Linked DNA regions of Homo sapiens: all the other regions are linked to region 1. A link means that fine-mapping ties the variant in region 1 to the plasma level of a protein whose gene starts in the linked region. Region 1 holds a variant in brackets. A gene starts in each other region. All regions are shown on their reverse strands.

Region 1 (7,616 bases):
GAAATGACAAGTGAGACCTGAATGATGACAGGGAACAGCAAGGGCAAAGGCCAGGAGATGAGACCACCTGGCACGTGTTAGAGAAATGGAAAGAATGAATGGAGCCCAGTTAACAAGGAGAGAGGCGGCCAGGGCAAGGGCAGGGACGGTCTTGGAAGCAGCGGTTCAGAGTTTAGAACAGGATGATTTGCATGATTTGCTTATTCTTTTTTTTTTTTTTTTTTTTGAGACGGAGTCTCACTGTGTCGCCTAGGCTGGAGTGCAGTGGCACGATCTCGGCTCACTGCAAGCTCTGCCTCCCGGGTTCACACCAGTCTCCTGCCTCCGCCTCCGGAGTAGCTGGGACCACAGGCGCCTGCCACCACGCCCGGCTAATTTTTTGTATTTTCAGTAGAGACGGGGTTTCACCGTGTTAGCCAGGATGGTCTCGATCTCCTCACCTCATGATCCGCCTGCCTCGGCCTCCCAAAGTGCTGGGATTACAGGCGTGAGCCACCGCGCCCGGCGGTGGGACTCTGATTTCAACACCAGATTCCACCAAAGTCGCCCTGGGGGCTCAGCACCATTCCACACAAACCAGAGGAAGAAAAGGCATGGGGGTGGCCCATGGGAGGTTTCTGTGGGCTGAGCCTGCTCGCCTGGCTGGATTTCAATCACACAACCATGCCTCCATGCAAAAGAGTCTGGGAAATGAGTGGCCCCTGTGCCAGGAAGAAGGGAAATAGGTTTGGAGATCAGCTGCAGAGATAATCTGATAACCAAGACTCCCTTCCTTCTCTGAATTCAGCCATGCAGGCCCCACTTCCCCTTCCCAATGGCGCCTTGCTTTTTTTTTTTAGATGGGGTTTCACTCTTGTTGCCCAGGCTGGCACCATGTGGGCTCACTGCAACTTCCACCTCCCAGGTTCTAGCGATTCTCCTGTCTCAGCCTCCCAAGTGGCTGGGATTACAGGCGCATGCCACCACACTTGGTTAATTTTTGTATTTTTAGTAGAGATGGGGTTTCATCATATTGGTCAAGCTGGTCTCGAACTCCTGACCTTAGGTGATCCGCCCACCTCGGCCTCCCAAAGTTCTGGGATTACAGGCATGAGCCACCGTGCCAGGTACTTTTTTTCCCTTAATACTGTGTGTGGAGATCGTTTTGTCACAGCACACAAGGACTATGTCCCCATTCTCTTCAACAGTTTCATGGTATTCCTCTGGATACATGAGGTAGTTTTATTTCATGAATTTCCTATGATGGACATTTAGGTTGTTTCCAATCTTTTGCCACTACAAACAATGCCACAATGTATGCTCTTGATTTGCTTAAGAAATTAATAGAAATGAGGCTGGCACCATGACTCGTGCCTGTAATCTCAGCACTCTGGGGGGGAAGCTGAGGCGGGTAGATCACTTGAGGTGAGGAGTTCGAGACCAGCCTGGCCAACATGGTGAAACCCCATCTCTACTAAACACACACACACACACACACACACACACACACACACACACACACACACACACACAATTAGCCAGGAATGGTCGCAGTGCCTGTAATCCCAGCTACTCCAGAAGGTGAGGCAGGAGATTGCTTGAATCTGGGAGACAGAGGTTGCAGTGAGCCAAGAGCTGAGATCGTGCCACTGAACTCCAGCCTGGGTGATAGAGTGAGACTACGTCTCAAAAAAAAAAAAAAAAGAAAAAAAAAAAGAAAAAAAAAAGAAAGAAAAGAAAAGAAAGAAATTAGTAGAAATGGAACAAAGAATATTTACAATTTAAATACAGATATATTACCCTCCAAAGAAGTTTAATTTATGCCCCACTACCTGTCATGTCTGAGTTTCCTTACACCCTCACCAGTAGAAGTTTCAGGATTTTTTTTTTAGCTTTGCTAATCTGAGAGACGAAAAAGTGGCATTTCACTACCACATTAATTTGCTTCTCTTTTACGAGTGAGCTTGAGCATCTCTGCCTAGATGAAGTCATGCATGTTTCCTCTGCTATGAACTAGCTGCTCATGTCTCTGGCTCACTTTTCTATTGGATTGTTGGTCTTTCTGAAATTGATTTGTAGGTGCTTTATATGTATCCAGGCAATTAACATTTTGTCTATCATATATGGCACAAATACATCCTGCCAGTCATCTTTTTACTACTAAGTAACTGTAAGTAGCTATTTCTGAACTACTGTATATTCTGTGTCATTGATCTCTGTATGCGTGTGCCAGTATGACACTGTTTTCATCACTGTAGCTTTCTAAGTCTTCTTGTTTTTTTTCCCCAAGACCAGGGTCTCGCTGTCACCCAGGCTGGAGTGCAGTAGCACAATCACAACTCGCTGCAGCCTCGACCTCCCAGGCTCAATTGATCCTCCCACCTCAGCCTCCTGAGTAGTTGTGATTACAGGTGCATGCCACCATGCCTGACTGATATGGTTTCACTGCGTCCCTACCCAAATCTCATCTAGAATTGTAACTCCCACAATTCCCACATGTTATGGGAAGAACCTGGTGGGAGGTGACTGAATTATGGGGGCAGGTCTTTACTGCACTGTTCTTTTGATAGTGAATGAGTCTCACGAGATCTGATGGTTTTAAAAACGGGAGTTTCCCTGCACAAGCTCTTTTTCTGCCTGCGGCCATTTATGTAAGACGTGACTTGCTCCTCCTTGCCTTCTGCCGTGATTGTGAGGCCTCCCCAGCTATGTGGAACTATAAGTCCATTAAACTTCTTTTCTTTTTTTTTTTTTTTGAGACACAGTCTAGCTCTGTCACTCAGGCTGCAGTGCAGTGGTGCTATCTTGGCTCACTGCAAACTCCGCCTCCCAGATTCAAGCGATTCTCCTTCCTCAGCCTTCCAAGTAGCTAGGATTACAGACGTGCCACCACGACTGGCTAATTTTTGTATTTTTTAGTAGAGATGGGGTTTCAACATGTTGGCCAGGCTAGTCTCGAACTCCTGACCTCAGGTGATCCACCTGCCTTGGCCTCCCAAAGTGCTGGGATTACAGGCATGAGCCACCGCACCTGGCCTAAACCTCTTTTGTAAATTGCCCAGTCTCAGGTATGTCTTTATCAGCAGCATGAAAACGGACTAAGGCACCAGCTAATTTTTTTTTTTTTTTTTTGTAGAGATAGGGTCTCTTTATGTTGCCCATGCTGGTCTTGAACTCCTGGGCTCAAGCAGTCAGCCCACCTTGGCCTCCCAAAATGCTGAGACTACAGGCATGTGCCACCATGCCCGGCAGCCTCCTAAGTCTTAATAGCTTGTACTAATATTTCTCTTAACCAAGATCTTTCAGCCTGGAAGTGATGAGGTTGCACATGTGCCTTCGAGGGATTCCTCTGAGAACTGCATGGAAACTCAGTTGTAGTGGGGAGGCAGGCCAGAGGCAGAGAGATGAGGAGGGCTCAGTTGGCAGAAAGAGTGTGAAGGTGGAATTGACAGGTAGCTGTGTGGAGATGAGGGCGAGAGGAGTGGAGTGGGTGCTGAGGTTCTTACCATGTGCTATTCCCCAGGATGGGGGAGCCAGGAGCAGCAGTAAACTTGGTTGTGGGGAGGGGAAGGAGAAAATGAGCTGACTTATCCACATTCGCATACATCGATACAATGTGGGCAACGTGCTTCGTCCCTGTTGGTGTGCGTGGTGTGTGTCTCAGTGCAGGACACGCTGGTCCACAGGTTCGTTTATTCTGGTTTGTCTGTGGTCTGTGGTGCTCACCATAATCCTAACCAGCAGCTCTCTCATCCCTGGTGCCCTACTGTTGGTGCACCTGTTCCACCCATGTCCTGCCCTCTCTCCTTATGGAAATCTTCCCTATCAAGATCCAGCCCAAGTCCCATCTTCTGGGAAGTCTTTTGTGACCATAGTAGCCTTCCTTAGCTGCTTTTTTTTTTTTTTTTTTTTTTTTTGAGACGGAGTCTCTCTCTGTTGCCCAAGCTGCAGTGCAGTGGTACCATCTCAGTTCACTGCAACCTCTGCCTCCTGGGTTCAAGCGATTCTCCTGCCTCAAGCTTCCCAAGTAGCTGGGATTACAGGCATGCACTACCATGCCTGGTTAATGTTTGTATTTTTAGTGGAGACAGGGTTTCACCATATTAGCCAGGCTGGTCTCAAACTCCTGGCCTCAAGTGATCCACCCAAGTCAGCCTCCCAAAATGCTG[A/G]GATTACAGGTGTGAGCCACCACATTTGGCCTCAGCTGCTTTCACACAGTCCTCAACCAAATACTGCAGACCAAGATCACCTGGATGTGCTGAAACGCTATTGTAATTATGGCTCCTTGTGGCTCAGTCTCTCCAAAGAATGAACTAAAACTTAACTCTCAACCTAGATTTCACCCTGACAGTCTGAGGCTTTCCTCTCTTCCACGTTTCTTTCCATCTGTTTCCTGGTTCTTCATCGCCCCTTGTCTGTGGGCTCACTGGCAGGAATGGGGCCGGCAGAAGCACAGGCATTCTCATGGTGCTGAGACCTTCGGTGGAAGCACCTCAAGCCACTTAACTTCCTCTAAGATATTCAAATTCCTAGCTTTCAACTACTCTGAAACCTTTCATTGTTAGGGCACAACTGATGTGCTTTCAGGCTTTAAAAAACCCTAGTTCCACTTGCTCTCCAACAAAGGTTGTGACTGAGGTCTCCTTCAGGGTCACTGACTGGTGAGATTCTAGATGTTTGGTTGTTTAGTCCCCGTTCTGGGACACTGACTCTGTCTATGGAAGCTCTTTGTTGCTGTTGTTGCAAACAATGATGTTAGGTGAGGAATTTAAAGCCCCATTTTAACAGGAAGACATCTGGCTGGGGGCAGTGGCTCAGCCTATAATCCAACACTTTGAGGCCGAGGCGGGCGGATCATCTGAAGTTGGGAGTTCTAGACCAGCCTGACCAACATGGAGAAACCCCATCTCTACTAAAAATACAAAATTAGCCAGGTGTAGTGGTGCATGCCTGTAATCTCAGCTACTTGGGAGGCTGAGGAAGGAGAATCGCTTTAACCCGAGAGGCGGAGGTTGCGGTGAGCTGAGATAATGCCATTGCACTCCAGCCTGGGCAACAAGAGCAAAACTCCGTCTCAAAAGCAAAACAAAACAAAACACAGTAAGACATCTGCCCTCACAGGTAGGAGGAAAAATATGGTCAGCCCTGAGCCCCAGCTCTGCCCTCCTTGTTTGCATATGTACACACACACACATACACACACACACACACACACACACACACAATCTCTCTCTCTCTCGGACACACAGCTGGCTTGACACTCCACAGGCAGCCAGGGCCACAGGGCAGACACCCCCATCATGGAGCCTGACCCCCTAAGAGGCAGTCGGGGGGGCATCCCGGAGATTATTCTGGAAGCATCAGAAGCTCATGCACTTCTTGAGGGCACAGCACGCTCTCCTTGGTGACATGAGCCTCATCATCTTCCTCCTTTCCTAGGTGAGGAGGCCAGTACCTCACAGAGGTGATCTTAACGATCCATGCCATGGAGTAGAAAGAGCTCTGGGATCTTCTGAATTTAGGTTTGAATTCACTGACAAGCTGTGTGATCTTAAGCAAGTTGCACAATTCCTTTGAACCTCTGTCTCCTCATCTCTAGCAGGGGCAGAATAAAAGGATCTGCCAATTGTTATAGGGTTCAAAATAACTGGCCAGGCGCAGTGGCCATGCCTGTAATCCCAGCACTTTAGGAGGCTGAGGTGGGTCAATCACCTGTCAGGAGTTCAAGACAAGCCTGGCCAACATGGTGAAACCGTCTCTACTAAAATTACAAAAATTAGCCAGGTGTGGTGGTGCGTGCCTGTAGTCCCAGCTACTCAGGAAGCTGAGACTGGAAAATCACTTGAACCCGGGAGGCAGAGGCTGCAGTGAGCTGAGATCGTACCACTGCACTCCAGCCTGCACAACAGAGTGAGACTCTGTCTCAAAAAACAATAATAATAATAATATACAGATAGTTCTTGGCACCTGGTATGTACTAAATACCCAGTAGCTCTTATGATTCTAGCCAGGCGGTGTCTGCTCATTCTGCCTCCCCTGGGGATCAGGTTAGGGAAGTCAAGCCCTTCTCACCCTCGCTTCTCAAAGTGGGTCCCAAAACAAGGAGCATGACCTGCAAGTGTGTTAGGAAGGCAGGCCCACCGCACCACGCTCTGCATTTTAACCTGATCGCAGGGGCATTCCTTTGCTAGTTGAGTGTGAGAAGCATGGCATCTTATGTGGTCCAGGCTAGTCCTCAGCCCAGATGAGGCCCCACATTCTTGCACTCCAATGTGAGCACAGCCGCCTCCTCTTTAGCGGGTCCCGCTCCTGACTCCAGCCACACACGAACAGCTGGTGTGTGCTGTGGCTTATGGTAAGCCACACATCATCCCATTTAATCCTCAGGTGATTCTGGGAAGCAAGGACTGGTCTACTCATTTTTCAAATGAGAAATCTGGCCGGGTGTGGTGGCGCATGCTTATAATCCCAGCACTTTGGGATGCTGAGGTAGGAGGATTGCTTGAGCTCAGGAGTTTGAGACCAGCCTGGCCAACATGGTGAGACCTCTGTCTCTTAAAAAAAATTTAAATAAATAAATAAATAAAACGAGAGATCTAAGTCTCTAAGATGAAGGAACATTTCCAAAGGTTGCCCAGCTACTCTGTCACAGAGTCAGGATTTAAACCCATTTGAATTTGGGCCATTTGAATCTAGAGCCACAGTCCTGACAAAAATTCTCTCCTTGAGCACGCTCTCGCCAGCCTTCCTCTGAACTCCCATCTCCACTAGACCTCAAACTTGGCATATTAAAACTGCAGACTTTCAGCACAAATGCTTAAGTCCACACCCCCATACTCCCATGAAAAGACTTAAGTTACATGGTGTCCAACATCTCAAGACCACATCTGTGGGATGCCCGTACCTGCCTGAGAAAGCCCAAAGCTGCTGAAAGAAATTACTGTTTGTTCCAGCAACACTAGAAGATGGACCCTGTCCCCCAGCCTCCAAGGGAGGGCAGGAGCCTAACCCTAAGCGCCAGTTAGCAAACCCAGACAGGTGTCACGCCAACCACACTCCTTCCTGCTCTCTCTGGTTCCCCTTCCTGACTCTTGAGCCCCCCTCCCAACCACCACCCCTCCCATCACCTCCGCACAAATCCAAGTGGAGCTCAGTTCCCGCTGGGCCCTGCTCTCTAAAGCAATGGCTTATGACTGATTAAAACCTGTCCCTGCTGGGCACGGTGGCTCACGCCTATAATCCCAGCACTTTGGGAGGTTGAAGCAGGCAGATCACTTGAAATCGGGAGTTCAAGACCAGCCTGGTCAACATGGCAAAACCCTGTCTCTACTAAAAATACAAAAATTAGCCAGGCATGGTGGTGCATGCTTGTAATCCCAGCTACTCGGAAGGCTGAGGTAGGAGAACTGCTTAAACCCAGGAGGTGGAGGTTGCAGTGAGCCAAGATGGCACCAATGCACTCCAGCCTGGGCAACAGAGTGAGACTCTGTCTCAGAAAAATAAATAAAACCTGTCCCTACCACTTTAGTGTCCGCCTTTACCTCTGACAGCTCTTCACCACTGTGTCATCCGTCTAACACTGATAGGACAGAAAATCCCCTGGGCCATTTCTCCACTCAGTCAACTTGATTAAAAGA
Region 2 (7,616 bases), not on the chromosome of region 1:
AGTCAGTTCAGGTAGGCATCTATTGCATGCAACCAAGAATCCTAACTAACTTTTTTACCTGGTACGAAGTGTTGCTGAGTTTCTTCATCACATCCTTCATGAAGTCCAGAATTTTCTGAAATTCATCTGGCTGCAAGCTCATCGAACCATCAAACAGAAATACCAGGTCTACGTTGCCCTTGATACATTCTGCAGAAGCCAGACGCAAGGGACCCAGTGAAGCATCTCTGGTGTTTGACCTGCCCATGCTGGTTCTCTCTAGGGACAGCCATTTGGAGGTATTTTTACCCAATGAGTCCCCAGTTCCTTACCCTGAAAACCAGGGCGCCCCTGCAGCATGGGACCCTGCAGATTCTGGCGGAAGAGGTAACACAGGCCACTCAGATAGGTGTTCTGGTCACACGTTCGAGACAGCCCAGGGTCACAGGCCTAAAGAAAGCAAAGGCCAAAGATTTGGGTCTCCTATTTGCTATGTGTCTTTTGGGCAACATCAACCAAAACTAGGAACGTTCAGAGTCCTTGTCCTCTTTCTCACTTCCTCTATCCAACTGGTTACCAAGGCAAGGAATGTCCGCCTCCACAGTCTCTACTGTCCATCCCTCCCATCCTACCAATGCTCTATGCCAATGGATGCTCACCGCCTGTAGGACTGGTGGTGAGTCTGGACTCCTTATCTGGGCTTACACTGGGCACGACCCCACATTTCCAGGTCCATCTTCTCCTAGTCCCAATCTCTTTTTCTGTGTTCCAGCCAAATCAAATTATCAAGATTCCCAGAATATACAGTGCCTCTTTCTTTCTTTCTTTTTTTTTTTTTTTTTTGAGATGGAGTCTTCGCTCTATCGCCTAGGCTGGACTGCATGGCATGATCTCGGCTCACTGCAAGCTTCGCCTCCCGGGTTCACGCCATTCTCCTGCCTCAGCCTTCTGAGTAGCTGGGACTACAGGCACCCGCCACTACACCCGGCTAATTTTTTGTATTTTTAGCAGAGACGGGGTTTCACCGTGTTAGCCAGGATGGTCTTGATCTCCCAACCTCGTGATCTGCCTGCCTCGGCCTCCCAAAGTGCTGGGATTACAGGCATGAGCCACCGCGCCCGGCCATGCCTCTTTCTTTCTTTTTCCCTTCCTCTCCCCTCCCCTCCGCCCCCCACTTTCTTTCTTTTTCTTTCTTTCTTTTTTTTTTTTGACGGAGTCTCGCTTTGTCACCCAGTCTGGAGTGCAGTGGTGCGATCTTGGCTCACTGCAACCTCTGCTTCCCGGGTTCAAGTGATTCTCCTGCCTCAACCTCCTCAGTAGCTGGGACTACAGGTGCCCACCACCACGCCCAGTTAATTTTTGTACTTTTAGTAGAGACGGGGTTTCACCATATTGGCCAGGATGGTCTCAAACTCCTGACCTTGTGTCTGCCCACCTCGGCCTCCCAAAGTGCTGGGATTACAGGAGTGAGCCACTGCACCCAGCCTTTTCTTTCTTTCCTTCCTTCCTTCTCCTTCCTTCCTTCATCTTTCTTTTTCTTCTTCCTTCCTTCCTATCTCTCTCTCCTCCTCTCCCCTTCCTTCCTTCCCTCCCTCCCTCCGTCCTTTCTTTCTTTCCTTTCTTTGCTTTCTTGCTTTCTTTCCTTGCTTTCTTTCTTTTCAGGTCTCACTCCCATCACCCAGGCTGGAGTGCAGTGGGACAATCATGGCTCACTGCAGCCTCAACTTCCTGGGCTCAGGTGATTCTCCTACCTCAGCCTCCCAAATAGCTGGGACTACAGGCACACGCCACCATGCCTGGCTATTTTTTTTTTTTGTAGAGATGGCATTTTGCCATGTTGCCCAGGCCAGTCTTAAACTCCTAGGCTCAAGCGATCCACCTGTCTCGGCCTCCCAAAGTCATTTCTTTCATTTATGACCCTTTCCTGCCAGATTGCAATTTCTTCAAAGTCTGGGCTTGTATCATGGTCATCTTTTTGCTTTGTTTTGTTTTTGTTCTTTTTAGACACAGGTCTCACTCTGTCTCCCTGGCTGTAGTGTAGTGGTATGATCAAGCTCACTGCAGCCTTGAACTCCTGGCCTCAACTGATCCTCCCAAGTAGCTGGGACTACACGTGTGTGCCACCATGCCCAGCTAATGAAAAAAACATTTTTTTTTTTTTTGTAGGGACAGGATTGACCAGGCTGGTCTTGAACTCCTGGCCTCAAGCAATCCTCCAGCTTTGGCTTCCCAAAGTGCTGGGATTACAGATGTGAGCCACCAGCCCGGCCTCATCAACTTTGTATCTCACTCCCCTTCCCCTGTCAGAACCTCGCCCAATGCCTGGCTATAATAGTAGCTAAATAAACAAGCTCTACTTAAATACTGGATGAATATTTCACTCAGTCTTCTATCTCTCACACAGAAGGATGCTGGCTGGGATAAGTTGGAGAGAGCAATGAACTTGGGATCAAATGAGAATTTTATTCAAATCCTGACTCTACCACTTTGCAACCATGTGACCTTGGTCAAGTCTCTTAACCCTTTGGTCCTGTTTCCTCGTGTGTGAAATGTGTACACTGATCCCTATCTCACCGGAGTGTCTTGAGGGTTTAAAAGAAATAAAGTGACCAGGTGTGGTAGCTCATGCCTGTAATCCCAGCATTTTGGGAGGCCGAGGCGGGCAGATCACCTCAGGTCAGGAGTACGAGACCAGCCTGGCCAACATGGCGAAACCCCATCTCTACTAAAAATACAAAAATTAGCCAAGGCATGGTGGCACACGCCTGTAATCCCAGCTACTCCGGAGGCTGAGGCAGGAGAATCGTTTGAACTCAGGAGGCGGAGGTTGCAGTGAACTGAGATCATGCCACTGCACTCCAGCCTGGGTGACAAGAGTGAAACTCTGTCTCAAAAAAAAAAAAAAAAGCAGTGTTTCCTAAACTTTAGGCATTTGTGTAATACTTCACAATATCTGCCATATGAGCATACTATTATTTTCTTAATATTTTCCTTTAAATTTTTGTTTAACTTCAGCCTCTTCCTAAGCAATATGATGTAAGAAATTATAAATTTGATGTGCTTGTCATATATTTTTTTCTAATAAGCCATTAAATTTATAACCATGAAAACATTAAAAGTTTGTATACCACTAAAAATCATATTGCATATCAATGATCACAGATATTTCATATTTGGAAGAAAAGTGAGGTTAAGTTATTGAAAATAGCTGGCTCTGCTGGGTGTGGTGGCTCACACCTGTAATCCCAGCACTTTGGAAGCTGAGGCAGGAAGATTCTTTTTTTTTTTTTGAAACGGAATTTCACTCTGCCGCCCAGGCTGGAGTGCAGTGGCATGATCTCGGCTCACTGCAAGCTCCGCCTCCCGGGTTCACACCATTCTCCTGCCTCAGCCTCCTGCGTAGCTGGGACTACAGGCGCCCGCGACCATGCCCGGCTGATTTTTTGTGTTTTTAGTAGAGATGGGGGTTTCACCGTGTTAGCCAGGATGGTCTCGATCTCCTGACCTCGTGATCCGCCTGCCTCGGCCTCCCAAGTGCTGGGATTAGAGGCAGGAGGATTCTTGAGCTCAAGACCAGTCTGGGCAACATGGTGACACTCTCTGTCTACAAAAAATATAAAAATTAGCTGGGCATGGTAGCATGCGCCTATAGTCCCAGCTAATTGGGAGGCTGAGGTGGGAGGATTACTTGAGTGCAGGGAGGTTGAGGCTACAATGAGCTGTGATCACGCCACTGCACTCCAGCCTGGGCAATAGAATAATAGAATGAGACCTTGTCTCAAAAAAAAAAAAAAAAAAAAAAAAAAGGCTGGTTCATCATTGGTTCTCAATAAACACTAATTGACTCTGATGCCTTTGACCATCTGTGGGAACTTTTATCCACATTCTTCTTCTTTTCTTCTCTCATTACTTGAATTGAGCTTCACAGGCTCTGATAACACCACTGCACAAAATTCTTACCAAAATGCTTCCATCTGTGGGGTCTGTTGCCAAGGTCATTCCCAAGTACTTGGAGGTATAGTTGGAACCTGTAGGCACCAGAAGGTTGGTCTGGAGGAGCTCAGGCAGTCTAGGTGGGCTGGGGCCAGCCTCAGTTTCCCCAAGATCCCATTCCTCCCAGCTCACCCCCCAGTTACTCACCTCTCAGGGTGACTGGCAGGCAGTGTCCTGTGCCCGACTGGCACTGATAGAGGCTTCCTGTGCTGTTCCCCTCCCCTGGAGCTCCCACGATGACCCTGGTGAGAAATCTCACCTGTGAGAGGGAGTGGCCCAGATCTGTACCCATCTACTCCTGCCTGCTAAGGAGGTTCAGATCTCCTGTCTCATTTCTCCAAGCACTGCAGCCATTCCCCTTCAAGAAGGTGCCTCTGGCCAGGTGGGGTGGCTCATGCCTGTAACTTTCGCATGAGGCCAAAGTACTTTGGGAGGCCGATGTCGGTGGATCACCTGAGGTCAGGAACTTGAGACCAGCCTGGCCAATATGGTGAAACCCCGTCTCTACTAAAAATACAACAATTAGCCCAGCATGGTGGTGCATGCCTGTAATCCCATCTATTTGGGAGGCTGAGGCAGGAGAATGGCTTGAACCTGGGAGGCACAGATTGCAGAGAGGTGAGATCTAACCGTTGCACTACAGCCTGGGCGACAAGAGCGAAAACTCCCTCTCAAAAAAAAAAAAAAGAAAAAAAAAAAAAGAAGATGCCTCCGTCCTCATCTCTTCCCTACAGAATCGCAGAGAAATAATTCCAAATGCTAAAATCCTAGAAAATTAAGGTTCCTTTGCATTTACAGTCTCTGAGGCCCAGAGAATGATCCGCCAGAATGTCTCATGATAAGTACATTCATTCAATCCTTGATTCAAAAGCCATTCATGGCTTACCTACTGTGTGCTGGGCGGTGGCGTATCTAAGAAGGGTTAGGAAGAGAGAACAGACTCCTGGCTTCCAGGCGCTCGCAGGGGAGTAAGGGAGTGTCAGGAACCTACTGGGCAATGCGAAGTGTTTTGGGGCTGGGATCCTTCCCTGTTCTGCACTTCCATGGCCTCCCTGATCGCGTGTATCCCGCTTTTTGATCCCTCACTCCTGTCTCTGAGGATTCCCACCACAGGCTCCTCCAGACGGGAACCCCTGGAGAGCTGCCTCGTGCCACCGACTAGCCCAGGCGAGGGTCGGGGAGGCGGCCACCGCCTCGGGGGCTGCCCCAGGGCGGGCATCAGGAGGAGGACTTGTGGGGCACAGCTCACCCGTTTCCGACCTGCAGGACGCGGTATCCAAAGTGCCTCCCGGCGCGCGGTGGGGAGAAGCTCCGCGCGCCCCGCACGTCCAGGTTGTAGCTCGAGGCCGGCGCTGAGGAAGGCAAGGGTCGTCAGCTGCGACCGAGGGACCCCCGCCCCTGCACGTGCCCAGCAGGTGGCCGATCCCAGGCCCACCCGGATGTCGCTCCCCAGGCCACCCGCACCCTGCGCTTCCCCTCCAGGGCGTTGACTTCTGGGAATATGGAAGGAGCAACTCCCGGCCCCCCTAGAGCTCTGAAAGCTCTTCCCAGGGCCTGAGGATACAACTTCCCGTTTGGCCTCTCTGCAAAAAAGGAAGGATGAGAAGTTAGAGGCTCCAGAGAGAGGAGCAGACCCAAGGGGCCCCAAGGCAGAGGGTGACCAAGTTCTCAGGCAGAGGCCAAGATGGGGATGCCCCCGAGCCGGGTGCGCCTCTGCCACCCACTTCTCCTGCGGTCATGGGGCCCAGGCGCCTCCTCCCACAGTCTCAGATTGTAGCTCCCCTGATCCCTGGGGGGCTGCCTCCCCACCCCACCGGGCCAGTCTTTCGGAGCATCTGTAGATCCCAGCTCCCTTCCCCCTCAGTCAGCCTGCCCAGGCGCCCTGGCACACCCAGCTGTCCTTTCCGCCCTGCTTTCTCTCCCCGCATGGAGTTTAGTTCAGAGCATCCTAGAATGTCATGGAGGCTGGGCCTTCATTTGTTTAGATGAAGGGTGTGGGGCTGGAAAGGGGAAAGGACTTGCCTAAAACGCGCAGAGGTGGCCCCAGAACCCAGCACCCTCCTCCCAGCTCTAGCTACTCAATAACTATCTGCCTTTTGTTTGTTTGTTGTTTAAGAGACAGAGTCTTGCTCTGTCACCCAGGCTGGAGTGCATTGGCACGAGCTTGGCTCACTGCAACCTCTGCCTCATGGGATGAAATGATTCTCATGCCTCAGCCTCCCGAGTAGCTGGGATTACAGGCCTGTGCCACCACGCCAAGCTAATTTTATTGTATTTTTAGTAGAGACGAGGTTTTGCCATGTTGGCCAGTCTGTCTTAAATTCCTGACCTCAAGTAATCTGCCCACTTTAGCCTCCTAAAGTGCTGGGATTACAGGCGTGAGCCACCGCGCCTGGCCCTATCTGTCTTTTTAAAGAACCCACTGCCCCTTCTTATGCTCCCTTCTCTGTCTTTGCCTCCACCCCTTGCTTATTTGTTTCTTTTATTTCCCCACTCTCCCCTTTCTCCTTCCAAGATCCCTGGGCCCCATATCCCTAAGGCCAATCCCACTTTTAGGGGGCAGCTCCTTGTTTACTCCAGCTGCACCAAGCCCTGCAGTTTCTCTGGTCACAGACACATGTCCCTTCCCCTGCCTCCTCCCTTGCCTACCGAAGAAAAAGAACCCAGACAGCAGCGCCATGGCCATCACAGTGATGCAGGAATCCTTCATCCTTCCAGCACTCGAGGGACCTGTGGCCCCAGGGGCAGCGTCAGGAGGCCCGTGGGATTTGCTGGCAACCTAGACAGGGTGAAAGAGGAAAATGATCATGCCCTTTGGCCTCTTACAGTGGTACTTTCTCACAGAGGCAACAGGCTGGTGACACTGGCAGGCGGGGAGGGAGGTGTGCCTGCAGGAGTTGTGAAACCGCAGGGGTTCAGGGAGGAAGTGTAAGCAAGTTAGAGACATTTCCTGTGCCTGCTTGCATTTTCACATCATCCAAAAGCTGACAGCATGTCAGGGAGATGACAGTCTCCACTGCTGTCATGGTTTCTCACTAACATCCCAACTAAGGGCTCTGTAAAGCTCAGCAGAGGACTGGTCTAATAAACAGTGGCAAAATTACAATGGAATGCTATGCAGCAGTGAAAAAGAATGAGGGAAGGAAAAATAAAACGGGGAGAAAGTGAGAGCTTTCTCTGGACCTTGAAAGATGTACATGAACTACTATTAAAGAAAAGAGCAGATTACAGAACAGTGTATTTAACCCATTTTGGTTCTAAAATGTAAAATCTAAAGAATTGGAGGCTGGGTGCAGTGGCTCACTGGCTGTAATTCCAGCCCTTTGGGGCTTCAGGAGGTGGAGGTAAGAGCATCTCTTGAAGCCAGGAATCAAGACCAGCCTGGGCGACAAAGTGAAACTTTGTCTTTAAAAAAAAAAAAAATTGGAGAAAATATTTGCAAATCATATCTCTAATAAGGGATTTGTTTCCAGAATATATTTTTTAAAACTCTTATAATTCAACAATAAAAAGACAAATAACCAGTTTTTTTTGTTTTGTTTTAAATTTTTTGAGACAAGGTCTTGCTCTGTCACCCAAGCGAGAGTGCACTGGCGCGATCACAGCTCAATGCAACCTTGAACTCCCAGAATCAAGCGATCCTC
Region 3 (7,616 bases), not on the chromosome of region 1:
GTGGGCAACCAACGCAGTCACACTGGGCCGTGCTTGGCTTAATGCTCTGTGGTCACCATGTTCAAATTCTTAATTTTTTTAACAAGGGGCCCCACAAATTATGTAGCCAGTCCTGAGTTTTACAAATTAGTTTGATTTCTGGAAGGGAACAGTGGATAGCTAATCCCCAGCTAAGGAGGCATCCTCCATAATCAAGGTTGTTTTCAACCTCCCTGAGCACATGTAAGTCCTAAGAAAGAGGGTTACATTTCTAGGACATGTTTTCTTCTGATATAAATTATATCATACATTATGTAGCGCTCCCTTTGAGAAAGTCGAGATTTTTCAGATTACAGAAATACACAGCAGTCTTCGTTTTATTGCTGTTAGCTAAAAAGAGGTTAATTTTTCTTAAAACTAAATTCTACTTAAAACTACCGTAGAATTCCTTTTTCATTTTCAACTTTTTAAACTTTATGAAATTTAACAAATACACTGAACGCTTGAAATTTCTTTGGAGATAGAAACTGGCAGGGCATGCTTCTCAGAATAGGAAAAAGAAAAAAAAAGAAACTGGCAGGACACATTGGCCATTCACAAAGAACACTGGTTTAGTTATCTTTATGATAAAGGTGTTTCAAGGCGTCAGATGTTTAAATTTACAAATAGCTTCTCTAGTCCTGAAGAGTTTCAAGTTAATTGTTAAGCTTATAAATGTTTAGACCATCTCAGAAACATTTAGACCATCTTAAATATAGGTTCATTTTGTTCCTCAACCAAAGATGACTTTGTTCTCCGGGGAACATTTGCCTATGTCTGGAGACATTTGGGGTCATTTAACTGCAGGGAGGGTGCACTGGCATTTAGTAGGTAGAGGCCAGAGATGCTGCTAAACATCCTGCAATGCACAGGACAGCCCCCACAACAGAATTTAACTGGCCAAAAATGGCAAAAGTGCCACAATTGAGAAAGGCTGGTCTAAACATATATGGCATTTGCCTCAGATAGGAAACGTGACAGCACTAAGCCACAAATCCAGTGACAAAGCCAAGAATACAGACAGTCTCCACAAGAAACACATATGGTTATATGAACAGTCATTTGGGAACTCCCTTTTTAAGACAGGGAGTTAGACATTTGACATACTGACCTGGAACCATGAATACATTTCTCATTAGAATAAATAAAAATAGTGACAAGAGTCCTTGGTTGGCTCTATAAAAAAAAAAAAAATACAGTATAGCTGAAATACCACACACTTCATAGAAAACAGAATTTGACAGTCAGAAGGGATCATTTCCAGTAGTAATTTCTGTTTTCTACCACTTCATTTCATGAAAAATGTACAATATCTACATCACAGTTCAGAATTTTCCATTCATCGGAGAATATAATCACCGTGTACAGTAGCAGTTTTTAAGGCAGAGTTTTGCAAACAGATGATGCATGAAACAAATTTGATTTTATTCTTTGTGGGATTTTTGTTTTGAGACGGAGCTTCACTCTGTCGTCCAGGCTTGAGTGCAGTGGCACGATCCCTGCTCATCCTAACCTCCGCCTCCCGGGTTCAAGCAATTATCCTGCCTCAGCCTCCTGAGTAGCTAGGATTACAGGTGCCCACCACCACACCTGGCTAATTTTTGAATATTTTTGTAGAGATGGGGTTTTGCCATGTTGGTCAGGCTGGTCTTGAACTCCTGACCTCAAGTGATCCACCTGCCTCAGCCTCCCAAAATGTTGGGATTACAGGTGTGAGCCACCATGCCCAGGCTCTTTGTGTGTGTTTTTTTTTTTGAGACAGACTCTCGCTCTGTCACCCAGGCTGGAGTGCAGTGGTGCAATCTCGGCTCACTGCAACCTCCGCCTCCCGGGTTCAAGCAATTCTCCGTCTCAGCCTCCCGAGTAGCTGGGATTACAGGCGCCTAGCCACCACGCCCAGCTAATTTTTGAATTTTTAGTAGAGACACCATCTTGGCCAGGCTGGTCTTGAACTCCTGACCTCGTGATCCACCCGCCTGGGCCTCCCAAAGTGCCGGGATTACAGGTGTGAGCCACTGCGCCCGGCCCTCTTTGTGTTCTAAAAAGGAAAAAATATGAGCCAATATTTAAAATCAGGCTTTACATTTTTTATTTTTAAGTAAAAGTTCTCAGCTATTCGTGGAAAAAAAAAAAAAAAAAAAAAGCTGCCTACACTGTATGGCTGAATGGGAATTCCTGCATGGATACTCGGTGGAAATGGCCAATATCCACCCAGCCTTAGCAGGTTCCTCTGCAGTCACCTGGGCCCAACCAAGCACTCTTGTGCATTACCTGTTTAGTCCATGTGGATAAAGTGGATTTTGTGATCCCAGTTTTAGGGAAAAACGTTTTTCTTACTGTTAAGCAATTCAATTACAAACGGAAAAGGAGTAACTCCTTAAAAAGTGAGTGGAAGCATTGCTATCATTAATCAAGAATGAACTATAATTAATGAAGGATAGAATCTAGTACAAACTTGGGGCCAAGGCTAAGGAGATCCTTTACAGGGCCAAGTTGAAGGACGGGCAGAGGAGGTGGCAGTGACCGTCAAACCCTCATCATGAAATGGAAAAAATATCAACCTCTCGGCCAATAAAACTTTTTAAAAGTAAATTCATAGTTTGGTATATTGTATTTTAAAATAAAGGAGTTTGCCATTTCTAAGAAATCAGTTTCCCAAAACTACCATTTTAAGGGCCCGAAAAAAATTCCTTTAAGAAAAAGCAGGTATCTACACAGTCTGAGTTTTCCTCCCTGCTAGAACTGAAATCTGTTACGAAAGCCTCCAGCAGGGGGGCCTGCCTGGAATTGCCTAAGCTCCTAGCAGGTAATTTACACTGATCTTTAAAAACTACTAAGCCCTCCTCCTCCCCTCTATAAAACAAACCGGCCTTTCAGAACAGCTCTGGAAGGGGGGCAGAATGCCAGACGAAGAGACAACTTCCAGACCACGTCTCTCACCTCCCACCCATCAAATTCAGCCCACAAAAAGCTGTGGCCGCATTCTCATCTCAAGGCACCACGGCTTTCTTTGAACACCATATATCTTCCCAATTGGCCTCTTGCCCCATTATGTGTAAAAAACCGACTCTCTTTTCTGCAGAAAGAAATAACAAGGCAAAGGGTGTACAGGGCAACGTTTATATGCATCTACAGCATGCCAGGTGCCTACAGAACCTACCTCGGCCTAGGCGGTCCGTGCCCTAGCCGGGATCTGCAGGCGCCCTCATCCACGCTGGGAGACGGGAAGAGGAGAGGGAGGCGTGACAGGCGAGGGTGCCTGTGCTGCGCAGAAAGCGCTGCCAGGAGAAAAGAAGCAGTGAGCAAGGGCTTCTTCCATTTCAAAAACCTAATAACCAAAACTTGGAGGAATCTGCCTGAGATACTTAAAAAAAAGAGGAAAGAGAAACCTAGGAGGGGGTAAAATGCTTTTAAGACGAATCACTTGTTTTCGTAATAGACCCTGCGCGCGAGTTTCCTAGACTGCCGCGAGAAGAAGGAAAGCGAGGGAGCAGGAAAGGAGAGGCTTCGGAGCCCCTAAACTAACGTCTCTTTTCTTATTAGTAATAGTTTGCTCCAGGGTGAGTCATTTATTATCCTAGCGTTGGCCTCTTTATCAGTAAAGTAGGGGTGAAAATGCATCTTAGCCGGGCTGGCGTTAGGATTCAATGAAGTTAAATGAAGTTAAGCCCCTGGCACCCATGGGATGGCAGCGAGTCTGTTCGTTCCCTGCCTATCCACGCCCGCAGCCAACCCCTCCGACATCTAAGCTACACGGACCAGGGGCAAGAGGCCAGAAAGTGACTTTCAGGGGACACGGGGCACCGGCGTCCCAGCCCCACTGAGCGGACGGAAAATGAAGGTGGAAGGAAGAGGCGCCGCTCCATTCCGGTCCCGGGCGCACCCCGGTTCTGCTTCCTCCTCCGCGGGGGAGCCCAGCCCGCCCGGGGCCACGGGGCACTGGCTGAGAGCCGGCTCCCTCCCACCCATCCTTCTCAGCCTTCCCCCACCGCCGGGCGGCCGAGCAGGGGAACACGAGGGAGAGCCGGTTACCTGGAGTGGGCGTCTGACCCCGGAGTCTCAGGAGGATGCCCAGCCGCTCCTGCTCCACCAAGCTCCCGCCCCGCGCCGCGCTCTAGGCGCTCCGGAGCTGCGCCTGCAGCCCTCACACCAGCGTGGCCCGCCCCGGGGCCGCCCCCAGAGGCCCCGCCTTTCTAGGCCCCGCCCACCACGTCCCCGCCTCGCCCACCTGCGCGAGCTCGGGGCTGGGGACTTGCTGCGGACTCGCGGTTCCCGCCTACAGGCGAGGGCGCCCTCTGGGCACTGACGTGGTCTGGGAGTAGCGCTGCGATCCTAGTGCTTCCTCGCTCCTCTTCCTCACTGTGCTCTGATTCTTAAGAGGTGTGTGAGCGGCGTCTTTTTAAACATTTTATGCCTCCCTTCCTCGAAAGCAGGAAACTCGAGAAATGCTGCCTTTTCTGATTTTAAACATGAAAATATGTTACAGAACAACAATAAAATTAAATTCCAAGGTTCTCGATATGTAAAGTTTAGAGATAACCATGTAGGTGTTTTTTTCTCTCCCCTAACGAACCTTGCTTCCTAAATTTAGCATTTAAGAACTCATTACATTCATGTGTATTTCCACATAAAAATTAAGATCAAATTAAACTGTGGAACAATCCACAGTGCTGTGGAAAGTAGGAAAAAACCTTCCCCGCCCTTATAGCACAGATCTTTGTGTCAGTTATAAAAGTTGACACAGTTCTCTTTGTAACAAGGGGAATATTGTGTCTGTGTCTTCTTTCGTTGGATTTTTAGCTCCTAGAAAACAGAACGAGGTCTTATTTGTTTCCATGTTGTTTAAAAAAAATTCTGGCCGGGCGCGGTGGCTCACGCCTGTAATCCCAGCACTTTGGGAGGCCGAGGCGGGCGGATCACCAGGTCAGGAGATCGAGACCATCCTGGCTAACATGGTGAAACCGCGTCTCTACTAAATATACAAAAAATTAGCCAGGCGTGGTGGCGGGCGCCTGTAGTCCCAGCTACTCGGGAGGCTGAGTCAGGAGAATGGCGTGAACCCGGGAGGCGGAGCTTGCAGTGAGCCGAGATCGTGTCACTGCACTCCAGCCTGGGCAACAGAGCGAGACTCCATCTCAAAAAAAAAAAAAAAAAAAAAAAAATCCAACTCAGAGGCCATTAGACTGTGATATGTTTGACACTTGCCTGATTTGTCAACAAAAATTAACATAAGATGATGGTATAGAGGAAGAAAGACTTCCCCTCTACTCTCTGAGGCTTGGATAACTAAGTCTATGAAATAAATTGACTGCAGGTAGATTAACAAGAGAAAAAGTACACAGATTTCGTGTAGGGGGTATCACAGAAAAGAAAAACTAATATTCCCTCTGCCTCCCCCAACAAAAACTGAGATTTTAGGAGCTTGTGTATCCTCTTCATTGGGGAGGGACAATTTAGGGGAGAGGAAATGATTTTGGGAAAAACTCCTGAACTCCTTCAATGGCTAGCTTTGTTTAATATCTCATGAAATTTTTCATGAGCAATTCAAGCATAATTGTTAAGAGCAAGTAGATTAGGTAAATGTAAATGGAATAAAAGTTTATAAACTTTTAAAAATAATTTGTTTTATAAAATTTGTCTACTTAAAAATAGTTTTAAAAATCTTTTTTGGTGACTTGAAATTTCGAACATATTAAATTAAGTAATAGATATTCATTAAATGTCTGAGTCATTTGTAAGTTAAAATACTGACATGTTAATTGCTAAACATAAGTTTAAAGTATAGCCGGGGCTGGGCACAGTGGCTCATGCCTGTAATTCCAGCACTTTGGGAGGCCGAGGTGGGTGGATCACCTGAAGTCAGGAGTTTGAGTCCAGCCTGGCCAACATACCAAAACCCCGTCTCTACTAAAAATACAAAAATTAGCCAGCTGCGGTGGCGTGTGCCTGCAGTCCCAGCTACTCAGGAGGCTGAGGCATGAGAATCGCTTGAACCCGGGAGGTGGAGGTTGCAGTGAGCTGAGATCGTGCCACTGCACTCTGGCCTGCGTGACAAAGCAAGGCTCCATCTCAAAAATAAATAAATTAATTAATTAAAAATAAAATATAGCTGGCTGTTTGCAATGGCTCACGCTTGTAATTCCAACACTTTAGGAAGCCGAGGTACAAGTATCACTTGAGCCTGGGAGTTTGAGATCAGCCTGGGCAGCATAGCCAGACCTCACCTCTACAAAATAAAAATAGATAAATTAACCAGGGGTGGTGGCCAAGCAATAGATTTATGAATTAACTTTTGGAATATATCTTGTTTGTCAGTTGGATACTGCCTGTATACCATAAGTGTAATCCATTTTGTTTGTGTATGTGACAGGGTCTCACTCTGTTACTCAGGCTGGAGCACAGTGGCGCAATCACAGCTCACTGCAGCCTCAACTTACCCCTGCTCAGGTGATTCTCTCACCTCAACCTCCCAAGTAGCTGGGACTACAGGTGTGTGCCACCATGCCCGGTAATTTTTTGGTATTTTTTGTAGAGATAGGGTTTCACCATGTTGCCCAGGCTGGGTTTGAACTCCCACGCTCAAGCGATCCACCCACCTCAGTCTCCCATAATGCTGGGATTACAGGTGTGAGCCACCTTGCCCAGCCCACTTATTTTTAATGCCTGCAATAACATACACCCATAAATCTATACAAGTAGTTTAGAAGGTATTTCTGGAATGCTTAGGGGTGTATCAGTCAGGGCCCAGTCAGAAAACAGAAATCACAGCAATTACTTTTACAGAGAATTTAAGGTCATGAAGATTGGCAAGGCAAAAACATTGTAGTAACAGAGAGAGAGTAACTGCAGGAAGCAGCTGCCATGCACAGAGCTGGGGAGAGGGGAAGTGTTGGGGTTATCAGAACCTAACAGCCAGGAGAGGGCCCCTGGTTGGCTGGGAGTCAGACCTCAAAGGAGGGGGCGGTACCCAGCTGGTGCTTTTATCTCTGAAGGTAAATATTGAGGCTGGATGGGAGAGGGTGGATTAAAACAAACAAACAAATCTAAGAAACTGGAACCAGCTGTTGCTGCAGCCAGGGAGAAGAGCCATTGCTTGGTAACATGGACAGGAACAGTAAGCAGCTATAAAGTAGCAAGTCCCTCTCCTCAAGCACCCCTTATAAGCAAAACCTTATAGGAAATGTGATTTGCTAAGTCCCAGCCCTGGCTCACAAAGCAGAAGATAGAAGCTTGAGTTTGAACTCTAAGACATACTTCAATAACCAGCACAAGGAGCAAACTCATGATCACAAACACCCAACTCTCCTAATATTATAGATGTGGGAAAGTGTCTGATAAACACAGCTGTCATAGTAATGATTAATACAATAGCAATATATTCTTAAAATGTCATAATAAAACTATAGTTACAAGTACAATCAAATAACGGGACAGAGGCAGGGCATGGTGGCTTATGCCTGTAATCCCAGCACTTCGGGAGGCCGAGGTGGGCAGATCACTTGAGGTAAGGAGTTCGAGTTCCAGCCTAGCCAACATGGCGAAACCCCGTCTCTACTAAAAATATAAAAATTAGCTGGGTGCGGTGGCACATGCCTGTA
Region 4 (7,616 bases), not on the chromosome of region 1:
ACCACGCCCAGCCAATTTTTTGTATTTTTAGTAGAGACAGGGTTTCACGATGTTGGCCAGGCTGTTCTAGAACTCCTGACCTAAGGTGATCCACCCGCCTGGGCCTCCCAAAGTGCTGGGATTACAGGCATGAGCCACCTTGCCCGGCCCATAAAGTTTCTCTTATTGATATTTATTGTTTCATAGTTTCTGGTCTTCCCAATTAGAATGTAAACCCATCAAGGATAAATATTGGATCTCAACCCTTCTAGTATTCCCTGAGATTAGCTTAGTTCCCTACACAAAGTGCACAGAAAATAATGAGAACAAGCCTACTTCTCCTCCTTCTTCTAACACCATCCATGGCCATATACATGATATGCACTGAGGATATTTGCATTCCTGCATTCATTCATTCAATGCTTAATTACAGATAAAAAAACAGCAAATAACTAAGAAGCTTTTAGGGGTACCACTCTATATTTACCAGAGTTCCGGAATGAAGAGTCTGTCCTATAGCTAGCTGAGAATATCTGTATTGATTTTACCTACTTAAATCTAAACTAACTTCTGGGGAAATTATAGTCTTCTTAAATTAAACTTGGTTCTTAAAGCTAAGGAAAACAATAATACTCATGTCCAGATTCAGAAATCTGATGAACAAATGGAAATACTTCTTGAAATACAATCCTGGTATGCTGTCACTTAAAGTCTGTAAAGATTCATTCAACCATCCTTCTATCCAATATTTACCAAATGCCTCTCATATGCATTTTAGTTCCCTGTTCTCCTGGGGCATACATTTTAGCATGGAGAAACAGACATTACACTAATTAAAAAAAATGAATGAACTGAATATCAGATAGTATGAAATGCCATGTAGAGAATTAAAGTCATGTCTGCTTCAGATTGTGTGACAAGAGAAGGTACAAGCCAGCTAAAATTTAAATGTCCAGAAGGAACTCTCTATGTGACGAACAGGAGGAAAAGCATACCAGATGGAGAAAATTGCCAGTGTATGGGCCACTGACTGGATTGTAGTGGTTGAGAAGGAATGATATGAGGTTGGACAAATAGGTAGCAGCCAGATCATAGAGGATTTAGTAAAGCAGCTTAATTAGAAATTTGGATTTTATTCTAACTGGAAGTTGTTTGAGGTCTTAAGCAGAAGAGTGACGTGATCACTTACGTTTTTTAAATAAAAAAAGTAAGTGATCATGTTCCACTGCTACATATGTACCCCACAAAATGAAAGCATATGCCCAGAAAAAAAATTATAAAAAAATCTTCGTAGCAGCTTTATATATAATAACTAAAATCTGAACACAGTCAAGGTGTCCATCAACAAGAAACAAACTGATATGTTTGTGCAATGGATTACTACCCATCAATAAAGAGAAACAAATTACTAATTCATGCAACTACATCGATGAATCTAAGAAACATTATACTGAGCAAAAGATGTCTTGCACAAAAGAGTATATACTCAAGTGGTTCCATTTATATGAAGTTCTAGAACAGGCAAAAATAATCTATGGTGAAAAAAATAGAAGAGTGGCTGGGTCAGAGGTAGATGTTATTATAAGAATAAAATGAGTCAATATGGTCAATAGTCACAAAGCAGTTCAAACAATGCCTGGCACACAGTTAATGTAATACAATGTTTAGTAAAAATCAAATATTTTATCCCTAATAACAGATTTTTAGTCCATTTATCAAGTATCTCCTTTTTACATTGTCTTCTATATAGAGACATTTTAGCTGACAACTTAGATACCAACTAAAATAAAACTGTCACCATCTCTCATTTTGATTGTTTAATGTTGAACTTTTCTAGGCCTCTTCCATTCATGATGTCAGACATTTCTCTGAAATTTGTTGGCATTCTATTCACAGTAAAATGTTTGTTCTGCACAAATAGGTATGGAAGGATCCCTCCATTGTCACTATTTCTCATAAGACTTTCCCTCATCAGAACGAACGCCTCTTTGCTAGGTGAAAGTCTTTTGGGTTCTGTCAGTCTCTACCTCACCTCCCTCTCTTTTGCCTTTCCGGTTTCCCACAGCTAATTCCACTGACTTATTCACTTGAAAGCTTAGCTCTATTCCAGTTCCTAGAACAGATTAACATGGGATTCAGCTCTCTAGCAAATTCCATTTACCCCAAGCAACTCACTCTCTGCTTTAATGATGGAGTTCCTACATTTGAGGATCCAAGTTTTATGTGCACCCAGTTTGCAGATACAGGCTTTATTCTTGGCCCCTGATACCAGGTTCTGAGACAGTATCTGCCTAGTACAGTAGCCTGATCCTAGGATGGAAGCTTTTCCATTCCCTGACCAATCCCTGCATTGTTGCAGCCCAGCTGACTATGAAAAGAACTCCCATATATTTTCCTAGGTTCTAAATATCACTTGCCTCAGATCTCTCATTGCAGGGTGGTGCCTGCCTTTGAAACAGTATTTCATCTTGGATTCCCTGTTACTAATCATTTGCAAAGAACACAACCAAGGACCACTATATCCATGGATACTGCTAAATTTCCACTCTCAGGTTCAACATGTGTTCCATTATATGAGTATCATGTGCTTTCTACTGCTAGCTACTATGAATAATCAGTCAAGTACTATTGAATGCTGTGAAATTAAGTTTTGCCACGATTCATCATCCAGTTAAAATTGTGCCAATTTCAGTTATCACTGTTACTAGCTCAATGGCCAACACTTTTTTTTTCTTTTTCTTTGCATTTAACAGTGTCTTGGAGCTGAACCCCATCGTAAATCAACCTGTTTCCCTTCTGTCTCAAGCTACTTTCCCAAGGTCTGTCTCTATGCGTGCCCCCCCGCTTTTAAATTCATTTCCTCAAAAAGCACCCTTTGTTTTTTACAATAACCCTAGGATAGCTATGAATCCTTTTCTCACACCATTCTAGATACCATCTTATGATGTTTTCATTCAGGGACTGCTATAAGACGTGAAACTTGTTTTAACACACCACAAATCAGATACCCAAATGAGCAATGTTTTCCCTCAAAATAGTTATGTTGGAGGCTATTTACTTAATCTAATGGTGTTATGAATGATCAAAGCATTTATTGAATTATTTAAAACTTGCCAGTTCCAGATCTTTGACCCTGTCAAAGCAGGCCAGTCCTATTACTTTATAGTATTTGATCAAGGAGGACTGTCCAGGTAAATCACTGTTCTAATAATCAGGCACAACTTGCTGTTACCAAAAAATTAGGTTTACCTATAAAGGATGAAAAATTTCTATTACTGGGGATATTTTGAAAAATAACCTCTGAAAGTAACTGTAAAAGTTTAAGTGTTGAGAAAAAGCATTATAGTTAGAATGGATTGCAACCTTTGTTTTTTTCTATATGCAATGAAGTTCTTTTTTTCAAGAAACAGTTCATGTTTTGGAAAGTGAAACCTAATTCACTATTACCAAAAAAAGAGGAGCAGAGGGAAATTCCGTAACTTGGAGGCTACAATAAATAATACCTTCGAGTCTGCAACATGGGACTTCCCCAGGAACAGCCAGCAGGTTTTGCTAAGTCAACTGTAATGCCCTTATCCAATCAGAATTAGGGAGGGAAAATGGCTTTGCAGATAAATATGGCACACTAGCCCCACGTTTTCTGAGACATTCCTCAATTGCTTAGACATATTCTGAGCCTACAGCAGAGGAACCTCCAGTCTCAGCACCATGAATCAAACTGCCATTCTGATTTGCTGCCTTATCTTTCTGACTCTAAGTGGCATTCAAGGTAAGGAACATCAAAGGATACTTAATTTGTAAAATGAGAAATAGGAATAGGTATAAATTCTAAAAATACAGAAATAATGTATTTGTAAAAGTTTCACTGCATGCTTATAAATAAGAGGGAAATAAATAGAGATTCCCTCAGATCATAAAACTTATATGAATTGAAGTGAGAGAAACAAATAGAATAAGAGAAAGAGAAGGAAAAAGGGAAGGAGGACAGAAGAGATGGGGAAGAGGGAGGATAGAGAGAGAAAATGTGAGGGAATGCGGACAGAGATGAGATACAGATACTTCCTTACCTAACTAAGCTCAATGAACCACATGAACTGTGCTTAAGGGTTTGACTTTATAATCAACAAGCTGCAATTCTTTTCTTCCAGATAATCAACTCTTTAATCATTTACAGTTGTGTTATGATGTGATCCATTCCTCCTCAGATTAAGTGACTATTTGCTGATATGGGGATATAGGTTCTGCTAAATACCACCAGTCTACATTAAATGCCTAAAATGAACACTGTGCTAACCTTCTCTGCTGTTCCTCTTTTCCTACAGGAGTACCTCTCTCTAGAACTGTACGCTGTACCTGCATCAGCATTAGTAATCAACCTGTTAATCCAAGGTCTTTAGAAAAACTTGAAATTATTCCTGCAAGCCAATTTTGTCCACGTGTTGAGATCATGTGAGTGAAATCCCATCTGATTATCACTTCCCTGGTTGTAATTATATACTGTATTAAATATGTAATGATAATAAAAAAAGATCAGTAAAGGGTTTGTGATGATTCTAAAACTAATGTACAGCAAACAAAAACATGCAGAGTGAAACTTAAATGTCTGACTTCAGAACTGCGTATGCCATCTGTTTTATTGACCCAACACAGTTTTAAATATTTTCATCCCTATTTATTTCTACAGTGCTACAATGAAAAAGAAGGGTGAGAAGAGATGTCTGAATCCAGAATCGAAGGCCATCAAGAATTTACTGAAAGCAGTTAGCAAGGAAAGGTAGGTTTGCTGTTGCCTGCAGAAGAATTGCTCTTTAGGAAACGGCAATCTTGGGAGTCAGAAATACTTGCATTGTGGTTTGCTGTGCAATCGCTGGTTTAAAAGTATGTTACCACCACGCCCTCCCCTACCTCCATTTATTTAAATGCTGAGGCACCATCTTGTGTGATAAGTATCAGAAGTTACCCTGATTACCAGTCAACCTTGAAGTACAGCTATAACTATCTAAGCAAAACTGACAACATTTTCCCCAAGTCTTTCATGGTTGAAAAAAGCAACCCCTATAATCCATAATGAATGCATAGCAGCAGGAAAGCTCAGTTATCTATTCTATGAACTCGGTACTTTCCAAACACAACCCAATCTGAAGCCAGAGTCAGACTATCACACTTTTATATCCCCTTTCTCTTCTTACAGGTCTAAAAGATCTCCTTAAAACCAGAGGGGAGCAAAATCGATGCAGTGCTTCCAAGGATGGACCACACAGAGGCTGCCTCTCCCATCACTTCCCTACATGGAGTATATGTCAAGCCATAATTGTTCTTAGTTTGCAGTTACACTAAAAGGTGACCAATGATGGTCACCAAATCAGCTGCTACTACTCCTGTAGGAAGGTTAATGTTCATCATCCTAAGCTATTCAGTAATAACTCTACCCTGGCACTATAATGTAAGCTCTACTGAGGTGCTATGTTCTTAGTGGATGTTCTGACCCTGCTTCAAATATTTCCCTCACCTTTCCCATCTTCCAAGGGTACTAAGGAATCTTTCTGCTTTGGGGTTTATCAGAATTCTCAGAATCTCAAATAACTAAAAGGTATGCAATCAAATCTGCTTTTTAAAGAATGCTCTTTACTTCATGGACTTCCACTGCCATCCTCCCAAGGGGCCCAAATTCTTTCAGTGGCTACCTACATACAATTCCAAACACATACAGGAAGGTAGAAATATCTGAAAATGTATGTGTAAGTATTCTTATTTAATGAAAGACTGTACAAAGTAGAAGTCTTAGATGTATATATTTCCTATATTGTTTTCAGTGTACATGGAATAACATGTAATTAAGTACTATGTATCAATGAGTAACAGGAAAATTTTAAAAATACAGATAGATATATGCTCTGCATGTTACATAAGATAAATGTGCTGAATGGTTTTCAAAATAAAAATGAGGTACTCTCCTGGAAATATTAAGAAAGACTATCTAAATGTTGAAAGATCAAAAGGTTAATAAAGTAATTATAACTAAGATGAAGTGCCTTGTGTGTCACTTGGTTGGGATATTTATTTCATAAGAAACTTAGATTGGAGAAATCTATGGCCTGGAGAAGAAGGTGGCATGGGCAGAAGACAAATGAGTTAGAGAATTACCACTCTCTCTCCTTCCAACTGTAATCTCCTGAAAGGCCCATCATATAAGATCCTACAGAACTAATGTAGCATAACAGAGCTTGGCCTAATCTCCAAATCCCTATAGCCAAATTTCTTTTTTTTTTAATCTCTTATTTTTTTAGACACAGGGTCTTCCTCTGTCACCCAAGCCGGAGTGCAGTGGTGCAATCATAGCTCACTGCAGCCTCGAACTCCTGGGCTCAAGTAATCCTCTGACCTCAGCCTCCAGAGAAGCTGGGATTACAGGTGCAAGCCACCACATCCAGCCCTATGGCCAAATTTCTCTAAGACATGTCCACTTGAATATCCCATAGGAACTTTAGTTTAAACTCCAAAATAAACTAATTCTCCTCTCCCTGAGATCTGTTTCTCCTCCTCTATTCTATGTCCTAGTTTAATTGCACCATCATCCAATCAGTTTCCCAAACCAGAAACCTGGGAGTAATTCTATACTACTTCTTCCTCTCCTCCCACATCCAATTACTTACTAAGAAGATCTTCACAATACATTTAGTTGGCAAATTATTAGCATCTAGAATATGTAAAGAATTCCCATAGATCAAAAAGGAAAAGACAAGGCTGGGTGTGGTGGCTCATGCCTGTAATCTCAGCACTTTGGGAAGCCAAGGCAGGAGGATTTCTTCAGCTCAGGAGTTTGAGACCAGCCTGGAAACACAGTGAGACCCTGTCTCTACCAAAAAAAATATATTTTTTTAGCTACTCAGGAGGCTGAGGCAGGAGGATCACCTGAGCCCAGGAGTCTGGGGTTACAGTGAGCTATGACTGCACCACTGCACTCCAGCTTGGGCAACAGAGTGAGACCTCATCTCTAAAAGAAAAAAAAAGAAGAAAAAAAAAAAGGAAACAGAAGTGAGTAAGAATTTCACAGAAGTAAGAAGCATAAGCCCCTAACATACAAAGATGTTCAACCTCATTTGTAATCAAGGAAATGTACATTCAAATCATTGTGAAATAACATTTCACACCACTAAACTGGCAAAACTTTTTAAGTTTGATAACATCAACCATTGCCAAGGATGCAAGGCAATGAGGAATGCTCTTCCACTGCTGATGAAAGAAAAAATAGCTATGACTACTCTGGAAAACAGTTTGGCATTATCTCACAAAGCTAAACACTGGCATACCCCATGTTCCAGCAATTCTACTACTATGTATATACCACAGATATTCTTGCATAGGACATACATCAGAATGTGATATGGCCGGGCGCGGTGGCTCACACCTGTAATCCCAGCACTTTGGGAGGCCGAGATGGGTGGATCACGAGGTCAGGAGATTGAGACCATCCTGGCTAACATGGTGAAACCCTGTCTCTACTAAAAATACAAAAAAATTAGCCAGGCGTAGTGGCGGGCGCCTGTAGTCCCAGCTACTCGGGAGGCTGAAGCAGGAGAATGGGGTGAACCCAGAAGGCAGAGCTTGCAGTGGCGCGATCTCAACTGGGATTACAG

Which allele goes with the higher level. Positions count from the first base shown, and alleles are read on the strand shown. Strength reflects both the effect of a copy and how common the allele is.
With allele A in place of G in region 1, the plasma level of the protein whose gene starts at base 6,778 in region 2 is higher (moderate association).
For the plasma level of the protein whose gene starts at base 4,174 in region 3, A is the high allele of the variant in region 1 and G is the other (moderate association).
For the plasma level of the protein whose gene starts at base 3,622 in region 4, A is the high allele of the variant in region 1 and G is the other (moderate association).

Evidence for each region. PIP is the chance, under the fine-mapping model, that this variant and not a neighbour inherited with it causes the effect. The UK Biobank Pharma Proteomics Project read protein levels with antibody pairs (Olink). The fine-mapping took linkage between variants from a reference panel, not from the people measured, so its PIPs are less certain.
Region 2: it holds the start of ITGAL, and the variant in region 1 is fine-mapped to the plasma level of the ITGAL protein (UK Biobank, PIP 0.99).
Region 3: it holds the start of GCNT1, and the variant in region 1 is fine-mapped to the plasma level of the GCNT1 protein (UK Biobank, PIP 0.98).
Region 4: it holds the start of CXCL10, and the variant in region 1 is fine-mapped to the plasma level of the CXCL10 protein (UK Biobank, PIP 0.93).

The regions. Positions count from the first base shown.
Region 1 is chr12:111,758,879-111,766,494 of GRCh38, reverse strand. No RefSeq gene overlaps it. Among named protein-coding and RNA genes, the nearest start is that of ALDH2, 4.2 kb to the left of the region's middle. RefSeq lists enhancers at 1-103, 4,296-4,831, 7,611-7,616. The variant A/G (reference allele first, on the strand shown) is at 4,149.
Region 2 is chr16:30,471,904-30,479,519 of GRCh38, reverse strand. ITGAL (integrin subunit alpha L) reads right to left here and starts at 6,778. Exons shown (of 31, transcript NM_002209.3): 1 at 6,622-6,778; 2 at 5,222-5,324; 3 at 4,120-4,214; 4 at 3,940-4,007; 5 at 312-429; 6 at 59-189. The coding sequence starts at 6,682. RefSeq lists an enhancer at 6,548-6,637 and cis regulatory regions at 6,609-7,130, 6,609-7,158, 6,609-7,168, 6,609-7,171, 6,609-7,183.
Region 3 is chr9:76,455,740-76,463,355 of GRCh38, reverse strand. GCNT1 (glucosaminyl (N-acetyl) transferase 1) reads right to left here and starts at 4,174. Exons shown (of 4, transcript NM_001490.5): 1 at 4,051-4,174; 2 at 3,179-3,296. RefSeq lists silencers at 2,790-2,859, 3,850-4,389 and an enhancer at 3,130-3,239.
Region 4 is chr4:76,019,503-76,027,118 of GRCh38, reverse strand. CXCL10 (C-X-C motif chemokine ligand 10) reads left to right here and starts at 3,622. Exons shown (of 4, transcript NM_001565.4): 1 at 3,622-3,748; 2 at 4,302-4,428; 3 at 4,664-4,753; 4 at 5,171-6,001. The coding sequence starts at 3,688. The coding sequence ends at 5,189. It also overlaps a transcript of ART3 not described here.